Homo sapiens: one gene and its partners. The protein of the gene in region 3 interacts with the protein of the main gene of each other region in a pairwise test. Each region holds a gene or a part of one and is shown on either strand. Other genes may lie near its edges. The genes, in order: AQP9, SYT2 and TF.

What was found.
Region 1: the proteins of TF (region 3) and AQP9 interact in binary tests that used the Homo sapiens proteins (3 or more experiments, as listed by UniProt).
Region 2: the proteins of TF (region 3) and SYT2 interact in binary tests that used the Homo sapiens proteins (3 or more experiments, as listed by UniProt).

What each region holds. Positions count from the first base shown.
Region 1 is NC_000015.10:58,141,297-58,148,419, forward strand, and holds part of AQP9 (aquaporin-9), read left to right. Parts: intron 1-7,123. UniProt on the Homo sapiens protein: Aquaglyceroporins form homotetrameric transmembrane channels, with each monomer independently mediating glycerol and water transport across the plasma membrane along their osmotic gradient.
Region 2 is NC_000001.11:202,589,973-202,595,454, reverse strand, and holds the end of SYT2 (synaptotagmin-2), read left to right. Parts: 3' UTR 1-4,859; downstream 4,860-5,482. UniProt on the Homo sapiens protein: Exhibits calcium-dependent phospholipid and inositol polyphosphate binding properties. May have a regulatory role in the membrane interactions during trafficking of synaptic vesicles at the active zone of the synapse.
Region 3 is NC_000003.12:133,791,285-133,797,156, reverse strand, and holds the end of TF (serotransferrin isoform 1 precursor), read right to left. Parts: 3' UTR 516-5,872; downstream 1-515. UniProt on the Homo sapiens protein: Transferrins are iron binding transport proteins which can bind two Fe(3+) ions in association with the binding of an anion, usually bicarbonate.

The DNA of each region.
Region 1 (7,123 bases), on a different chromosome or scaffold from region 3:
TGAAGTGAACAACCCAGCAAGCAGCTGTATTTCCTCCTGAGGTGGAAGGACAGCTTTCCAGGGCTGGACTTTTGAGTAGATAACATACTGTGTAGTCGGACAGATGCTGAATTCTTTTCTCACCCTGTCAAGCTTCCGCATTAGAGGTCTAACTTTTGGCATCTCTTAGAATGGAAAAAAATGCAAGTACTTCTGCTAAAAGTAGTACCCTTGATCTTTACCTTCAGTGCCCTGAAGGAAATAGAAAGAAACTATCCTGGAACACAGACTATGGAGGAAATAGGGGAGTGGGCAGTACAGGAAGGAGGAAGGAAGGACAGGGATGGTTGATTGTATGTGAGAAATTTCAGACACTGCAGTGTTCCCTTCTTCCTGCTCCTACCTTCCACCAGGACTGGGTGAGAAATCATCCCTCCTTGCTGGGGTCACAGAGTTTGTCTCTCCATTTTGAGAGGATTCTCAATCAGACATGCTGGTTATAGACACTCTAGGGCTTTAAAATTATTATTACAAAGTTTGTTCAGATCTTGAAGTAGGTCTATTCTATCTTAGGGAGCTTTTGAGACAAAAGAATCTATGGTCAGGATTTAGAGTGAAATCAGAAAGTTTATAAGCCAAATTAAAGGAAACGTCCACTTTGCAGGGCAGAATCCAGGACAATTTTGGTCTAGTACATTATTTGGAATGCCCAGGTACTGGCAGGAGAGCTCTGAGATAAGGGTGGGCAGATATCACTGGCCCTTTTTATTGGTGGAGAAGCTGAGCTCAGGCTGATGTAATCATGCATCCCGGGAATCAGCCCAGAGCCCAGTTGCCCTGCCCTGGGCACACACTCGCCCTTGGACTTCCACTGTGCTCTTCCCTTGAGCAGCACAGAGTGTTCGCTTGTCCAAATTCTCGTTCCTGTTTGAATGTTTCCTGAAGAGAGAGAAAGGAGAGCGATCAACTGCATTTTGCCAGATGGAGAGACAAGTGTAACACAATTAAGAGACTTATCAGCCCTTGAATGAAAGAGCTGGGCTTGGTATCTTGACTCCAGTCATTCCCTAATACCATCATTTGATGAGAATTAACTCCTTTCATGTGAAAGCCCAAGCGAACTTGACAAAGTTTACAGTTTAAAATACATTAGCAGTGTCAAAAGATGATTTTACAGAACAGACGTGATCGTGGTGGGGATATTTTACAGGAGATCTGCTAGCAGAGTCTTGGGATCTCTTCACCACCTACAAACACATTCAAACCTCAGGTAACACCAGGGTTCTGAGGTGGCTCAGTGATGTCTTCAGCTCTGATAAACACATTGACCAAGCATTGCACTGTGTTTTTCCTCTAGTATTTCTGTTTTCTAGCTTTTCCTCAAGACCACTCTTTTGGTTCAGAGCAAAGGACCTATAGGAAAGTGGGCCTCAAGAGACCCCATAACTTCTCTGTCTTGCTTTCTGGCTCAACAGCCACCTATTCTTTCTCTGTTTCCTCCATGCTTGGTTCTTCTAGCTTGCTATTTTACAAAACCATCCATCTCTCCAAGTCTAGGGTGCCCAGGACTGAGGGTCACATGGAGCTAGAGCTGTCAGTTGGCCAACAGATGCTAGATCAGAAGCCCCTACTGTCAGCAGTGCCCTGGATTCTGCCTGTGGGTGGTTTGTCTGTCCAAGTCGTGCACCATCCTCAGGCCCTCGCTCAGAAACTTTGGAATAAGATGGTCTCTGTTGCCTGACTCTTGCATCATTCAATTGAGAGAACAGACACCCACAGTCTTGCAGCATTTTATCAAAAGCTCTTTCCACCACAGCAGAACATCAGAGGATGTCTACCGTCAGTTTTACCTGCCTCTTGTTATTATGATTTATGTTCAATGCTCAGTCCTTCAAGGATTGGTACTTCTGTACTTGGGAGTTCTGTCCCTTTAAGAACGTCTGAGGTTCTAAATCTGAACATGCAGAAGTGCTAAACACTGGGGATTCTCCTTAGATCCTTGCCTTGAAGCAAGAGTTTAAAGACTCGAGGCTGTCTTCTGTCAAATATGATGACGAGGACAAGAGAGGGCAAAGGAGGTTAACACTAAGCATACTCTATACCCCAGACACTTTGATCCTTAAACTAAATCTAAACTAAATCTAATGAGGTAAAGATACTGCTCTCATTTTATAGATGAGGAAATTAGGACTTAGTATGTTTAAGTCACTTGACCACAAGCAAGTGTGTGGTGGAGCTGAGATTAGAATCAAATCTCTCCAGTTTCTCTTAACCACGCTACAGTTAACATTCTAATATATGCTTTTGAAGTTTTACTACAGTTGCCTATAAGAATATATATTATAGTTTTATATGTTTAAAAATTTACATATATAGCTTCATAGCTTATACATCTTCTCCAATTTGAGACTTTTTCCCAGAGACACTTTCTGAAATTTATTAATTTGGGAACATGTATGACTGGTTTATGTACCCATCGCCCTCTCACTATTGATTACAATCACCAAGACTGCTACATTGAACATCTTGGTACATGTCTCCTTGTACACATGTTCACGAGTTTCTCTGGAGTATATACCTAGAAGAGGACCTGGTGGTCCTAGGGTATGTGCATCCTCAACTTTATGTGTATTATAAAATTGCTCTCCAAAGTGATTTCAAAGTTGTACTTCCAGTAGCGACATGAGTTCCCATTTATCACATACTCAACCATCCTTGATATCATCCAACTTTTATATTTTGCTAATTTGAGAGAGAGAAAAATGGAATTTCACTAGTAATTGTACTCAATTCCAGTGCAGTGATTATCTTTTCATGTATTTACTAAACGTTTAGGTGCCTCTTTTGTAAATTGCCTGATTACAGCCTCTGCACCTTTCTCTTTGGGATACTTTACTTTTTCTTAATTGTTATAGGATATTTATATTTATTTTAAATCCATACATTAAGGTATTTTGTGTTTTCTTATTGAGGTTTAATATTTTGCTTTTCATATTTGTGTCTTTAAATAATTAGAATTTATTTGGTGTATGATGTGGGATTGGGGTCTATTATCTATGTCTGCAAGGATAGACAATTGTCCCAAGGCCAGTTTTGACTGTCTATCTTTTCTCCACTGATTGTGATGACATTCCTATCATACACCTGTTCACACGCATATGTGGTTCTATGCCTAGACTATTCAGTGCCATTGATCTGTTTGTCCAAACTTGCACTACCTCATATACCATTTTTTTTGTTGTTGAGAACATTGTTTGTTGTTGTTGTTGTCTTTCTACTTTTATTACCAAGGTTATATTAGACTCATGAAATGAATCAAAATTTTCCCTTTTTTTCTATTTTCTGGAGCACTTTGTAAAATGGGAGTTATGTATTTCTTGAAGATTACTCAGCATGTGCACGAAAAAAGAGAGGGATGGACAGATGACAAGAAAAATTTCTTTAAAAGTTACAGGTCTGGCCAGGCGCGGTGGCTCATGCCTGTAATCCCAGCACTTTGGGAGGCCGAGGTGGGCGGATCAAGAGGTCAGGAGTTCCAGACCAGCCTGGTCAATATGGTGAAACCCCATCTTTACTAAAAATACAAAAATTAGCTGGGCATGATGGCATGCACCTGTAGTCCCAGCTACTCAGGAGGCTGAGGCAGGAGAATCGCTTCAACCCGGAAGGTGGAGGTTGCAGTGAGCTGAGATTGCGCCACTGCACTCTGGCCTGGGCGATGAAGTGAGACTCCATCTCAAAAAAAAAAAAAAAAAAAAGATAAAAGAAAAAAACTCTACTATACCTGAGGTGACATCCTCTTTTCAATTTTTAAAAAGAAGTTTGTTTTCCATTTCAGTAATTTCTGCTTTGATCTTCCTTATGTCCTCCTATTGAGTTGATCAGCTTTCTTTATTCTTGCCTTTTCTCCTCTGTGTGCCCTTTCTATTAACGTATTTACCCTTAGGCTGGGCACAATGGCTGATGCCTGTAATCCCTGCACTTTGGGAGGCCGAGGCAGGTGGATCACCTAAGGTCAGGAGTTCAAGACCAGCCTGGCCAACATGGTGAAACCTGGTCTCTACTAAAAACACAAAAATTAGCCAGGCATGGTGGTGTGCACCTGTAATCCCAGCTACTCAGGAGGCTGAGGCAGGAGAATTGCTTGAACCTGGGAGGCGGAGATTGTGCCAAAGCACTCCAGCCTGGGCAACAAAATGAGACTTTGTGTCCAAAAAAAAAAAAAAATTACCCATATATATATATATTTTTTAACTTAAAGTAAATCAATTTTTCTTCTGAACAACACAAAAACTTTAAAAAATTCTAACTCCAATCAACCACTCTATCTTACATGTCATTGTTGTCTAATATTTAAATTTTTCCCTCATTATTATTGTTGTTACTGGTGTTTTAAAATAAATATTTTTGTTTGCTTATTTAAAAATGCATTCCTATCATTTACTGGTTTATTTGCTAATCATTACTGCATACACCCACTACTTTCTCTTGGGTTCTGTCTCCTTATTCTTGCAGTTCTTCCTTTAGAAAATTTTTCAGGAAGGGTGTGTGACAGATGAACTTTCTCAGTCTTTGTCTGAATGTGTCTATTTCATGCTCAAGGTTGAATGATAAATTAGCTGATACATTTTAGGTTGATAATTATTTTTGCTTGGCATTTTTCAGGTGTCTCTGTCATTTTTCCAATGCCTCTGTTATTGCTGTTCACAAGTCTCTGGGTCTCATTTTTGTCCTTAATAATCTGAATTTATCTGGTAACTAATAAGAGTTTCACTTTGTTTTTTTATTTTGAAATTTCACTATTATGTGCCTAGAGGTGAATTTATTTCTAGTTCTTAACTCATTTTTCATCTTCAATTTAAAGGGTTATAATATTTACCAATTCTGGAAAATTTTCCTCTTTATTACCTTGCCTTTCCCCCAGTCTGTTTTCTCCTTTTAGAACTCCTACTATATTGGTATGCATGTTGACTCTGTCATTTTTTTATGCCTCAACCATTTTTTTCATATTTCTTCTCTTATTCTCTTAATCCATGCTGAATTTTGTATAGTTGCTGTTTCAAATCTATCTTTCAGTTCACCAATTCCCTATTTGGTTCTATCTAATCTTCTGTTTAACACGTTCATTGAGTCTTTAGTTTCACTATCTTTTCATTTCTATATGTTTTATTTGGTTCTTTTTTTCTTTTAGTTTCTTTTCTTGTGTGCTTATTTCTTTCATTTCCTTAACTCACCAAAGCCTAATATATTTATAATATTTTAAACCTGTTCTGTCGTCTCGAGTTGCGGGGGAGTGAATCATTCTGCCTATTTTATCTACTGACTCTTATTCATAAAGGATCTTTTCCTTTAGTGTTTTATACATCTGTATTATAAATTCTTCAGGGAGATTTATTTTTCCCTGTGGGAATTCCACGTGGCCTAAGGTGTGGATTTGTTCTTCCAGAGCAGGTTTGCATTTGCTTCTGCTGGGTTCCCCAGGTATACCGCCAGCCAGAAATGATTGCTGTGGAGTGGCAAACTGAAAAGAGAAGCCTGGGGGATGCAGGTGCCTGTTGAAGAGCACTCTCCCAAAAGAACGGCACTCTGTGACCTTTCTCCCAACTGTGACCGTAAATGACTAAGAGACCTCGTGCTTCCTACAAATGAGGCCAGCTCTTTTGACATCCTTAGACTTTGAGTCACTAGCAGCTGAGGGAGAATTTTCCTACAGACTTCCCCCTATCAGCAATGAACGTGGAGGACCAGGCTCACCTGGGAAATCTTACAGTTTCAAGGCGCTTGGGAGAAAAGTCCGTTCTGGATCACTGATCTAAGGGCTGCAGACTCCTGGAGCCAAACTTGATTCTGCCAAACAGGATTCTGCTTCTGATTGTGAATTTTAATTTTACCCAGAAAACTCACTGTTTTCATTGACTTTCAAAGGGGAAGTATTTTTTTTTTCTACTTTCCAGAAGTGGGTTTCGTCAGTTTTTCTTTAGTGACGAATCCCATTGCAACATGTTCTCATTACTTGACGAGAAAGGAAAACATACTAATGAGAGCAGAAGTTGGCCCTTATTTACTCATCAGCCCTGTGAAAGTGACCTAACAACCCACAGATGGTTCAAATGGCTGAAGCAGTTCAACCGTGAAGAAATTAGGTGCCCATTATACCTCCAGCAGGCATCTAATTTCATGTCTGGGGCAGGATTGCTGAGTTCACTGAAACTTCTAAGCAAAGCAAGTGATTTAAGAGAAACTATGCCAGCAAAGTGTGCCGGCCCTGCCCCTTGCCCTTTTCTCCATCTCAGTAGCTTGGCTGGTCATGCTAAGATGTGAGCCTAGAACAGTCAGTCAAGACCATAAACGACTTGAAGGCTTAGTCCCTCTCAGCGCACATGCCTTAGAGTCTTTCTGGAAATTCAAGCTTTCTTATGAGAGTACCTCCCGAAAACCCTATGCTTCTATCAACAGGTGATTGGTTAAAAAAATGGGGGTGCATCTATGCAAGACTCCTATTTACCCATTAAATAGAAGGTTTACATGCTAATACAAAAATACTCTAAGCTATTCAAGTAGAAAAAGCAGGCAGAAATGGTATGTGTTAAATACCCTCACCTGTATAAACACATGCACACACACACACACACATATACATGCACACACACAGAGGCACATGCACACTTTTTGACAACATACCAGGAAGTATTGATATTAGTTACCTGTGGAGAATAATATTTAAAATCTGGGGTTGGAAGGAAACACATTTCTTATATTTTATAGTATACCCTTTTGAAATTTAAAAACTTGTACATATTCATATGTATTTTCTTCACCCCCTTCCTCCCCATGAGAGAGCTCACCCAGTAGAGTATGTCTTTTCAAAGCATTTTTGTAGGGAGTTGCTCAAAATCTGTTCTGAAAAACACTAGTTCCAAAAGATGCAAACAAGAATTAAGTGAAAAAAATACATGTGGTCCTTCCCAAATATGTTTGGGAAACACTGGGTTAAACCAAAATAAGCAGTTTTCTCAACTGCAGGAATTATCAGAGCCTTTAATGTTCTCTGTAAATCTCTAAGAGGGGAACAGAATGTAAAGCTGTCTTCAGCTCTACTTAACCACAAACCCCTTTTTTGAGGAGCATCTAATGGAACTAATGA
Region 2 (5,482 bases), on a different chromosome or scaffold from region 3:
ATGCTGGAGAGCTGATAGGTAGCTGGAGTGGCCCAGGGAGACCTATGGGAAGGACCCGTCCTACCATTAGGGGGCTTCTCTCTATGAATGCTAAGAAACAAAGGGCATCCATTCCAAATGAGTAGCAGAGGTGACCTTCTAGGGTTTCTACCCATGCTCAGTTGTATCCCATTCCCTGTTCACCTTTTGTCCCCAGCACTGATATAAAAGCCATATATATGTTAGTCAGGTTTGCACTGAGTCTTCTTCCAATCCTTCAGCCTGGACAACAGAGTGAGGTCCCCTTGTGGCCAGAGGCCAGCCCTCCTTGCCTGCCTTCCTTTGACCTCTCTTTTCCATCCATGAAGCCCTCAGGCCCTTGCCATTTTTTCACCACAGAAAACTCATGGCTTCTCCAGAAGCCTGAGTATCTCTCTTTCCCAGCACAAATGGCAGCATCTCTATCCTGCCCCATCTGGGCCACTTCAGCTTCCTGTAGACACCCAAGACAGATGGACAGTGTTGGAGGGAATCAGGCTTTGAGGATCCAGTGTGAAGAAGTTGCAGAGTGTCTTTTTATTTTATTTTAAAAAGGGGGAAGGGGCTTTTGGTTTTGCTTTGTTTTTTGGATGAAGGAGTGAGGGAAATGAGGGAATACCCCCACCAGAAACAGACTGGAAAGCCTGCCTGTCTCTTGGAGATCCTTCTTTGTCTTGTTAGTGGTACATGGGAAGTTATGTTTTTACTGGTGTGTGTGTGTGTGTGTGTGTGTGTACTTAATGATGGGAAGGTAAGACTCTGATCAGGATTATGAACTGCGGTCCTTGGGACCAAAGGTGTGGTCATGGTAGAGAGTTGTAGGACAATAGGGTGTTTTCAGAATCTGGGTGGCCACAGAGTGGGATTTCCTGGTATGGACATCAGAAGTCACTGGACTCTTCTCCCAACCCCAGAGTTATGGGATTTTGGTGCTTTCTCAGGGTCTCTCCCCAGACTCACTCTTCTCACCCATATCCCACAGACTCACTCATGGAGACCCCCTTGTCAATATCCCCTCTACCTTTACTCCTTTGCCCTTTCCCAATTCATCTTCTACCACCTGGATTCTTTTCCATTCATGAACTTCATTCAGCCCTTCCAAAGCCCAAGATTTGCATTCCCTTGACAGGGAGGAAAGGCAATGGTAGGAACCTCTGGTGGTCTGGGTGTCTATGTGCCTGGTGACCAGGGCTGGATTTTTATTACTCTGAGCCCACTGCTAGTGAGGAGCCTTGAGGGGTGGGGACAGGTTGCTGAGTGATTTTGAACGTTGACACCAGTGTGGAGCCAGTGTGGGTGTGGGGAGCAGTGCCTTCCTCAGGTCCCAGCTGGTCCTGATATGCCACGTAGTGGATGGCATCTGTCTTGGTCCATGGGCTTGGTGGGAACATGCTTCTGCTTGTGTGTTTTCCATACCTGAGGGCTGACGTAGCTTAAACCACAGGGCATCATGCCAAACACTCACTGCTGGGCAGGTTTATTTCTGGGGATGTCAGGGTACTGGGGTGTAGGCACTAAGCAGGATAGAGTTAGGGTGTCTGGCTAGTAAGGGGTTCTGGACGCCTCTGGGGCTGTGAGTTTTCATCTCAAAGTCTGTTCCAGAGAAAGGAAAGTAGTATAGAGGTGATTTTTAGAGAAGCTGAGACCATGAAAACAAGCCTAATCCCATCCAGAAACTGGGGTAAAGTCTGAAAGTTCGTTTTCTTCTTCCTCCCTGAATAATTGTTCCAGAAGGGATGCTAACTCTGCCAGAGCTACAGGCAGATTTTTGGGCTTTGGAAGTGGAAGCTGAGGCCTGGGGAAGGCTGGGTAAGGAATGCTGGGGCAATCTCAGACAGTAGGCAGGTGCTTGGCATGAATGAGAAGTGACTTTCCTGGAGTCCCTCAGTAGAGGATGAGATAGCAGGGATTAGGCCACAGTCTCAGATCCTGATCTTTTTTCTTCCTAGGAAAGCATACATAACTTGTGTCTGCAGAATCAGTGTGGGATGATTTTGCTGGCCCAAGGCTTCAGCGAGAGGGAGAAGAGAGGTCACTACAGCCCTCCTGTGGGTAAAAGCAGCTCTCTTATAAACCTGCCTCCATGCAGTGGGGTGGGGGTAAGGGTGGGTGACAGCAAAGAGGTTGAGGAACCTCCCTGGGTTTGGGGAGTGAGAGCTTCCATGTTCCCTTAATGTCCTAGGTTAATTCATAAGGCATCTGAGTCCTGGGTCTCACCCAGCCTCACAGAGAGAAAAACTGTCCCTGAGGGTGTCCCCTCCCACTCAAAGGTAGAAAGAGATTGAGCCAGGAACTGCCCTCATATCCTCTGCTCTGCCCCTTCCCTTCCCTTTCCTCTGCCCCTCCCACCTAAAGCTGTTTGGGGCCCTTTCTCAGAGCCCTGGGTGGTGGCAGGCAGGGAGGAGTCCCAAGATCCTGGTGGCCCTGAGCCCCATGCTATGGTTGCCAGATTTGGCAAATAAAAATACAGGATGTCCAGTTACATTTGAATTTCAGTTCAACAACAAACAATTATTAAGTGTAAATATGTCCTAGGCAAATAGTTGGGACATATACTAAAAAATAATTTGTTGTTTATCTGAAATTCAAATGTAACTGGTCATCCTGCATTGTGTCTGGGAACCCTACCCTATGACTTTTCCCCCTCTCCCTTTGGTCCCAAGGGGCCAGGAACCCCAAGGATTTGACTTAACCAGTTTTTTGAACTGCAATATTGAGAAGGGGACACTGTGACTTGAAGACACATGAATTACTTTATTTTTTAAGCAACAACAAAATAAGAACCTTCTGAAGCCATTTGAGCCTCATCTGCCCCCATCCGTGTATATTTAATTATATATAAAAGAAGATAATTACCTAGAAACATATGAACAGAATCTTGTTTAATCAAGATGCATGTCTATAACTTTCTGTAAATAGCCGCATGGCAATGCTGAGAGTCCCCTTGATCCCCAACCTCAAACCCATTTTACAGAACTGGTTGAGGCTGCTCCTTTGATTTTATGTCGTGTAAAGTCTTTGTTCCCCAGCCCCACCCCTGCCTCCTCCCATCGGGAAACCCCCCATGGGAGTCATCAGTGGGCGGGAGTCGGTGCCTGCTCCAGTCCAGCCCTGCCTTGGGAGATGCTGGAGGACCCTGTCGCCCTGAAGGCCTGTTTGCTGCACATCTGCCTGCAGAGCCAAACCTCAGGGCCCGGTGCAGTGTCCAGCCTGGTATCTGGCATCCCAGTAGCTTCCATGTTCTGTGTATGTGTGTGGTGTGCCCCTTCCTCCCACTGTTTGAATTCACTGAAAAGCCATAAAGGGGGCCTCCTGCTGGAGATTTGGCCTCCCTTGGCTCCTCCCAGGAGCCCCCATGTCTCTCCAACTGGCTCCCCACAGACCACTTCTGAAGGGCTCACCTGTTGTCACTCCCTCCTGCTCCCTCAGTCCCGTGTCATGAGAATGGACGGTGTCCAGGGCTTCCGGTGGGGTCTCAGGAGATGCCCATGCTGGCCCTGCCCGAGCTGGCTTTCTCGGCCTGGGTTCACAGTTCAGCTCCATCTCTACGCTGGGCGAGGAGCAGACAGCAGTGGGACTCCATGGTTCTGGATACCTTTCCTGGGGTCCCTGTGGAGGCAACCAGGATTTTCAGGAGCAGCCAGTCAGCAGCTCAGCCAGGGATGACAGAACCATCCCTGCTTACTCACCTCTGTAGTGTGAGGGTCTGTGGGTGGTGATGGAGGAGGGACTCAGGGAGAGGCCGGTGAATACAGGGGCTGACGCTCTTCCCTCGTGCATCCTCCTGCAGTCTGACAGAAAGCAGCCCAATAGCGGGGCAACCTCAGGGCTACCAGCGATCCCCTGAGAGTGGGGTGGGCAGGTTCAGCTGTGAGAGAGGCTCAGGCAGAGCAGGTGTGGACTAAGTCCCCTGACCTTCACACCTGCTCCCCAGAGAAGCCCCAGCCAGTTGCACCAAGTAGCAGAGGTGAGTAGAGGGGCCTGGGGGCTTCCAAGGCCCCAGGTCATCCTGTTGAACTGAGAGGGACAGGTAGCCCCCCTGCCTGCGGCCCCTGGCCCCATGGGCACCTGAGGGCAGTACTGCATGGGAAGAGCCCAGGATGCCTCAGGCCTGGCAACTGTGACAAGTATGAGGAAGGAGAGAGAACGGGAAGGGAATCAGGCAGGGCGCATTCGAGGAGGCCAGAGGTGGCGAGGCAGGCTTGCCCTGCACAAACCACAACAGAAGTTGCACACAGAAGTCCCAGGGACCTTTGTGCTGGGAACTGAAAGAGTGGGGAAGGTGGAGGGGACCATTTCAGAGCAGGCTGGAATCAGGTGCTTGGACCAGTGAAGACATGTCTTGCTTCCTCCAGCTCTCTCTGGGGCCCTCCCACTCTCCACACCCACAGCAGAGACAAATTGAGGCAAGAGTTGAGAGAGCATCTGTCTGGTGAGGTGATGGGAGCAGTGTGCATGGGGCACCAGGAGTTCCTCCATCCCACCTGCCTTAGCGATCAGGACTTTAGGGGGGCCTCTTCAAAGATAGTGACCCTTCTGCCCTGACTCCTGCCCATCTAAGGACTTGATTTGCTGCTTTCTGAAAACCCTGGGGCTGAAAACTTCAAAATCAGGGCCTGGCAGAGCCTAGCTTCGCCAAGGTCAGCCCACCAGGAGCCCTGCCTTCGTCTCCATAGGAAGGACACATGTACAGCCCTTGCCCCCGGCCCTCTCATTCCCACTTCTGCTTGGCAATGCTCTCCATCTCCCTTATGTGGACTCTTGTTCTTGTCTGATCTCTTGTCAAATTGTTATTTTGTAATGAACTGCGTCTCCTTATTAAAGAAATGAGCTGAAAGAAACCTGGGGGTGGGGGGTGTCTCTGGTTGTTTTTGCTGCGCTGAGGTGGGGGTGAGGGAGTGGGAGCTGCCTGTGAGGGTCAGTATGGTGGGTGAGGGTGGTGAGATGGTCCTGAGGCTCTGGCTTCTAACCCAGAATCTCCCTTCAGGGAAGCACCAAAAGGGGCTGAGGTCCCCTCTCTCCTGGGGTTGGGGGAAGACCAGATTGGCACTCTGGTGGGTGCTGGGGCCCACACATCTCCTGAGAACACATGCCAGGCTGTGGAACTGTGGGGAGTGTGGTGGTGCCGGGGAACATTGTCTGGGAGGCTGGGCGGGGCGGGGTGGTGGTGGGGACTATATTCTTGAATTCCCTTCCAGTAGAGCTGGGCTTAGGGAACAGCCACAGTCTGAGCCCAATGACGAGAGGGAGGCTGGCCCTGGGAAGTGGGAATTTGAAAAGTAACAATTTCTACAAAGTCCTCAGTTGACTCTTTGCAAATAACTTGAAATGTCTTTAACTTCTGAAGCAAAGATGTTAGGGACCAGGGATAGGGCGTCAGAATTTTTAGGGAAAGGGAGAGTGGGACAGCATTGCCCCCAAAGACCAGGGAAGAGTAAAACTCCTTCTTCGGTTCCCACTTCCA
Region 3 (5,872 bases):
ACTAGATGTTATAAATTAGGACACCATCCAATGTTATGCAATTGGGATCATACAGTATGTATCATGCTTTTTCACACATCATGAATATTTACCAATTCAAAATTCCAAAGCTATGTAAATGTTTGTTTGTATACACAGCAAAGTAAAAGGAAATGCAGATATAAGGGACAACAGTCAATTGTGTCATACTGTAAACACACTGATATAAAGCCCTTTGCACTTTCTTCTGCTCCTTCCTCCCTGAATCAGCATAAATATAATGTGAAGTGGTTTGATCAATTTCCAAAAGACAATGTTTCATATGAATCAAAAGGATATCTACAAAATGTGTTATTTACTACCTCTACTTTTAACATACTGTGTGCACTTCTAAACATCTAGAAGACTAGATGTTTCAAATAAGGACTTAATTTTGTCCACTATATGTCCAGTAGTGTTACTACTGGAGGGTGTCCAGGTTCTTGGCTTCTTGAACAAATAATTGGACAAAATGCACAAACAAAGCAAGGAAAGAATGAAGCAACAAAAGCAGAGGTTTATTGAAAACAAAAGTACACTCCACAGGGTGGCAGAGGGCTTGAGCATAGGGGCTCAATAGCCCGGTTACAGAATTTTCTGGGGTTTAAATACCCTCTAGAGGTTTCCATTGGTTACTCAGTGTATGCCCTATGTAAATACAGAAGACATTTCCCATCATAGCTGAAGTGTTTCCATTTGATTTAGTTCTAGGAAGTGAGCATGCATCTGCCTTATATTCCTTGCCTACAGACCCTATTCTTCTGCCTCATTTCCCTCCAGAGATGGGATCCCCATAAATCTTTATGGGAGGTGGAGGGGCCGATGGTCTTTCTTTTGTAACTGCTTCATGTTGGCTTGAGGCCTAGTCCCTACCTATTGAGGATCACAGAAGTCCTGCTCTGCTCTTTCTAGTGAAGGCAGGGTAGCTCCTTGATGGCCAGGGGTGGTGGAACTGGATGAAACTTTTGTTGCATGATCATCTGAAGCTTGATGGTCTTTTGGCGAGAGGAAATTAATTTGGTTAAAAGATTTAATGGGAACTCAGGGGGTGGATATCTATGCTGTCAGGAATGTTTGTTATAGAGATTTGTAGGAGAAAAACAAAACCTGGCCTGTGGTCTGTTCTAGGATCTATGTGTTTCCTTAAGGTCTTGGCATACGTGACTCCGTTTTGGTTTAGTTTGGTCTGTTGGGGCCTGGCGCATGGGCTCAGTACAAAAAAATGACCTCCCATAATTTTGTTTAAAAAAAATTCCCCTTTTTGGCCAGGTGCAGTGGCTCACGCCTGTTATCCCAGCACTTTGGGAGGCCGAGGTGGGCAGATCATGAGGTTAGGAGATCGAGACCATCCTGGCTAACATGGTGAAACCCCGTCTCCACTAAAAATACAAAAAAATTAGCCGGGCGTGGTGGCAGGTGCCTGTAGTCCCAGCTACTCGGGAGGCTGAGACAGAAAAATGGCGTGAACCCGGGAAGTGGAGCTTGCAGTGAGCCGAGATCGTGCCACTGCACTCCAGCCCGGGTGACAGAGTGAGACTCCATCTCAAAAAAAAAAAAAAAAAAAAAAATTCCACTTTTTTGGTCAGGTTCTCACTTAAGTGAGAGTGTGACCAAAACTTAGGGCCTTACTTAGCACCACTCTCAGTTACCAACACTTTGGGCTTTTGGACTCAGCACATCATTCGTAGGTTACAGTGTCCTCATGGCTGCAATTTCTTTCAGCTCTTGTCATTCCAGTTGAAGAGAGGCCATTTGACATTCTAGAGGTGGCAGCATGCAAACATTTAAAACCGTTGAGAGAATACAGCACACCAGGGAGACTATTATTATGACTATCAGGAGGATAATACCAAGAGTTGAGAGTAAGTATGCTCCTTATCCAGGGTCACCATAAACCAAACCTCCTAAACTCAAATAGATTAAACAATGAGCTAAAGAGTCTACTCACTTAACTAAGCAGTCTCTTCATTAATTTGCTACAACTGAATCTCTATAATACCTGATGTTTTCTCCATAGGCCATGAGTGCCAGCAGCTGCACAGATACTCTTCTGTTTAGCCAACTCTATTATTTAGCATAACTTTCTTAAGATAATTTAGTCTATTATGTAACCATAGCCTTTACAGTAAACTGCTATGGAGCCTATTATGAGGGATACATTTGCCTCTTTTATTCCAAATCATGGAAAAAGGACCTAAAGCTGGCTGCAAAATTCTTCACAAATAAAAGTATAACCCATAATTGTACACAACAGATCCTTTTTCCACTTCTATTCTTCATAGAGGCAAAAGCAAGGAAAAAATATTCAAAGATAAGAGTCTCATGATAATAGAGAAGTCTTGATTCATGATCTTGGGAAAAGCTGTTCACATCAAGGATGCCATCTTCTTCGGGAGAGAAACTTCCCTGGTTAGCTTTACCTTAAGGGTTCCAATGGGTGTACAGTTCCAAGAGTGTGGAGGGACTCTTCTCAGTTGTGAGATCATGAACCCAAAGTTCAAAGTCCAGAAGTTTTGCTGTAGTGTGGATGGCAAGGACAGTCTTTATCCAATGTTTTCAGAAGATACAATCTTCAGTTTCTAGGTTGTGAAGGAGTTGATTGTCCTCAGTGAACCATAAAAAGCTTTCTTTACCTTGTGAAAATACTTGGTGGCATAATAACTTAGTGTTATAACATCAGCCCTCTTGCATGGGAAAGCTTTTATACAACCAGAAAACATGCACTGAAAATAACAATTGAATAAAATCCCTCTATAAAATGTTTAAATGGCCTATCAGGTGACTGGATGTACCTGAAGCTTTGATTGTTTTCCCAGGAATATGGGACCAAACATTGGTTATAAACTATTTTAGCAATTTATAAGTCACCACATCAATATATTCAATTTGGATCATTTTATCTTTTCCGTGACGAGTCATGTAATGCAGAAATTTTACTAACAAAAGCTTTAACGACTTAGGAAGGACAAGGTGGCCATCCTGGTTCTCCATGAGTTCATGCTTAATTAACATTAGACTCATATCCTCTTGAATACCAGTTGTTTCCCCAAATTAGGTGCATAACACTGATAACTGATGGGTTATCATAGGTAATTTGATTTAAATGATGGAGTTTATTCAAATTTTATATCTAAACAGTTTCAGTATCAGCTGATTTAGCATGAAAATCTGGCAAAGTATTTTCTTGGTATTTAATTAATTTTTGTTCTACTTGGGTTAGCAGTTTTAGAACTCAGTCAGTCTTTTCATTAAAGTTCCAGGAATTCTTACCCAGTTCAAATGATATAATTCTAAACTTATTAGAAACCTGTATTCAAGAGTGCTTTTTAGGGTCCTTTCCAATCTTTCATGAATCTCCTAAAAGACACCATATTCTAGGACTTTGCATGCTTGTGAAGTTTTCAGAAACTGCATCAGCATTAAGCAATTAACTGTGGAAATGACTTTAAATAGTTATAGTTAAAAACACAATTGACAAGGAAATTTGGTTATTTCTGTGGTCTACAATAACATAATAATCATAATTATGATTGATAGCATATACTCAGACATATTGGAATTTTAGAAATCTCATACAATTTTGGAACATATATTAATATTATTCACTAAAATATAACCTGAAGAAGATTAAATTTTTTTCTTTTTGACAATGCTTCCCATGTAATTAAACATGTCAAATAATTCTGTTTACCTCTCTTTTGGATGCTTCAGGGGCCCTCTGCAGCATCTCAAAGTTAGAGGTTAGAAAAGACAATTTTGAAGCTGAAATTTGATTTTGGGAAGCCTATTAAATATGTTAAAGATTTAAAACACTTGACATTATGAAATGGAATTCCAGGTTACCATAGTCATTCATTTAGCAAAATGATGACTCAAAAATGTTTTAAAAGGCAAAAACCTTTCCATGTTGATAGATGGAAGACTTACTTTACAAACAATCTGTCTCTTGTCTTTCCCTTCCTTTTTTTTGGTGGGGGGGTAGTTTATTCAAAAGGCAAACAAAGATCTTTCATTATCTTTTAATACTGCATGAAAATCTTGTTCAAGAGAGAAAGCCAAATTTCACCCTTGCATTAGTGTGCTATTAATGTCAACCCCAATTTTTAAGAAAACCTTGTAGACATATCTTTCCAATCTTAATCCGTTTGACCATAAGGTGAGATTCTCATAAACCTTTTATAATCCTTTACAAATGTTTGTTAAAGAGCAGATCGGTGCTTTAAGAAAACCCTGTTTGTGCTTTTATTTTGATGTTCAATTTATGGAAAAACCAGAAAATACCCCTTTAAATTTAGTCAATATGTTCACACACATAATTTTTTACAATATTAATTTTTATAAATCTTCCACAACTCATTCAAACTTTTAGCTTTATCCTAACTTAAAACAATCCTTTAACCCTTTAGACAGAAAAAAAAATCTACATTCCCATGCCTTGTTATAATCTTTCACTGAAAATGCATTCACTTTTCTTACGTAACTTGCATGTAAAACTGTTGCTTCAGTAGTCTCACTTACATGTTACAATGTTAACTCTTAGCGAGTTTTACTTTTGGTGAAAACTTTGGTAAGTTAAGGATTTTAATTATATATTAGTTGTGGAGTCTAGGACCCAGAGAGAAGTACACTTAAGGTCTGACTCCAGCATCTGACTCCACGTGTCTCAGGCCTTACCGAGCTGTAAAGCAGGCAAGTTGTAGAGTTAAGAGTCATAGTGGCATTTTATGAAGCATTTAGGAGGTCTAATCACCGTTAAATTGTATATTTCTTGCATAAATTCTCTTTTGTAAATTATTTCATGACTTACACAGACCATCTACGACATGCTTTGACTTTCTAACTTGTCCTAAACATCCCTCTTTTTTAACAACCGCTTATTTTACTTTAGGACACGAATTTACGATATAAGATCCTTTCTTATATAAAATCTCCTTTCTTTATAACCTTCTTTGCATAGCTAGGGGACATGGCTAATTCTATTTGTCCCCAGGCCTTATCTAGAATCTAATGCTCCAAAATAAATTGAGCAATTTTTAAAAGTCAAAGAAGCGGTTTATGACCTTAAAGCATTTTGCAAATCTAATATCTGACCTGCATAATTTAGACTAAATATTTACATTTTGAAGATATTTTTATTTTACCAATAATCTTTAAAACTGTCTTTATTTCCCAAAGATTACTTAAGTTACATGAAGTAAATAGAAGGCATTACATTTTTTACTTTTCTGATAAAATATTTGATTTAAGCTCTTATTATTATTAAGCTAATTAATTAATGCTCTTTTATAGTACACACACAACACATATAAATACACAGACAGAAGATAAAGGACTCATTCCCTAAGCCAGGAATTGAACCCTAAACCCAGGCTGCCACTGTGAAAAGAGAAAGCATGGCCACATGGTTACAAGGTCAAGCTCCCAAAGACATGACTGACCAGTCTGCTGGTGTGTCTTGAACAGCAGGTCTATGGGGTCCTAAGCACACATTTTATTCTAAGGTACCCCTCTTTATGACAAAACAATACAGAAAGACACAAAGCACACCAGATTCACTACAGCTTAAGATCGGCCTCAGAATTCTTTTTTTATATTAATCAAAACTTTACAGAGGAGATAAACAGTGACTTTTACTATTCATTTATGCAGTTTGCACAGAGAGACAGAGACCAGAGTCTGGCTGGTAAGAAATTCTTACCCTTTTGCCAGTATGCCAGGTTTCTGGGTTCTGTCTCCCAAAGCAGCCCTAGGAACCCTGCTTGACTATATGCAAACAAACACATTGCCATGAATTAAGAATATTCACAAATAGTTTACGAATTTTGGAGAAAATGGGCAGACAGAGAAATATGAC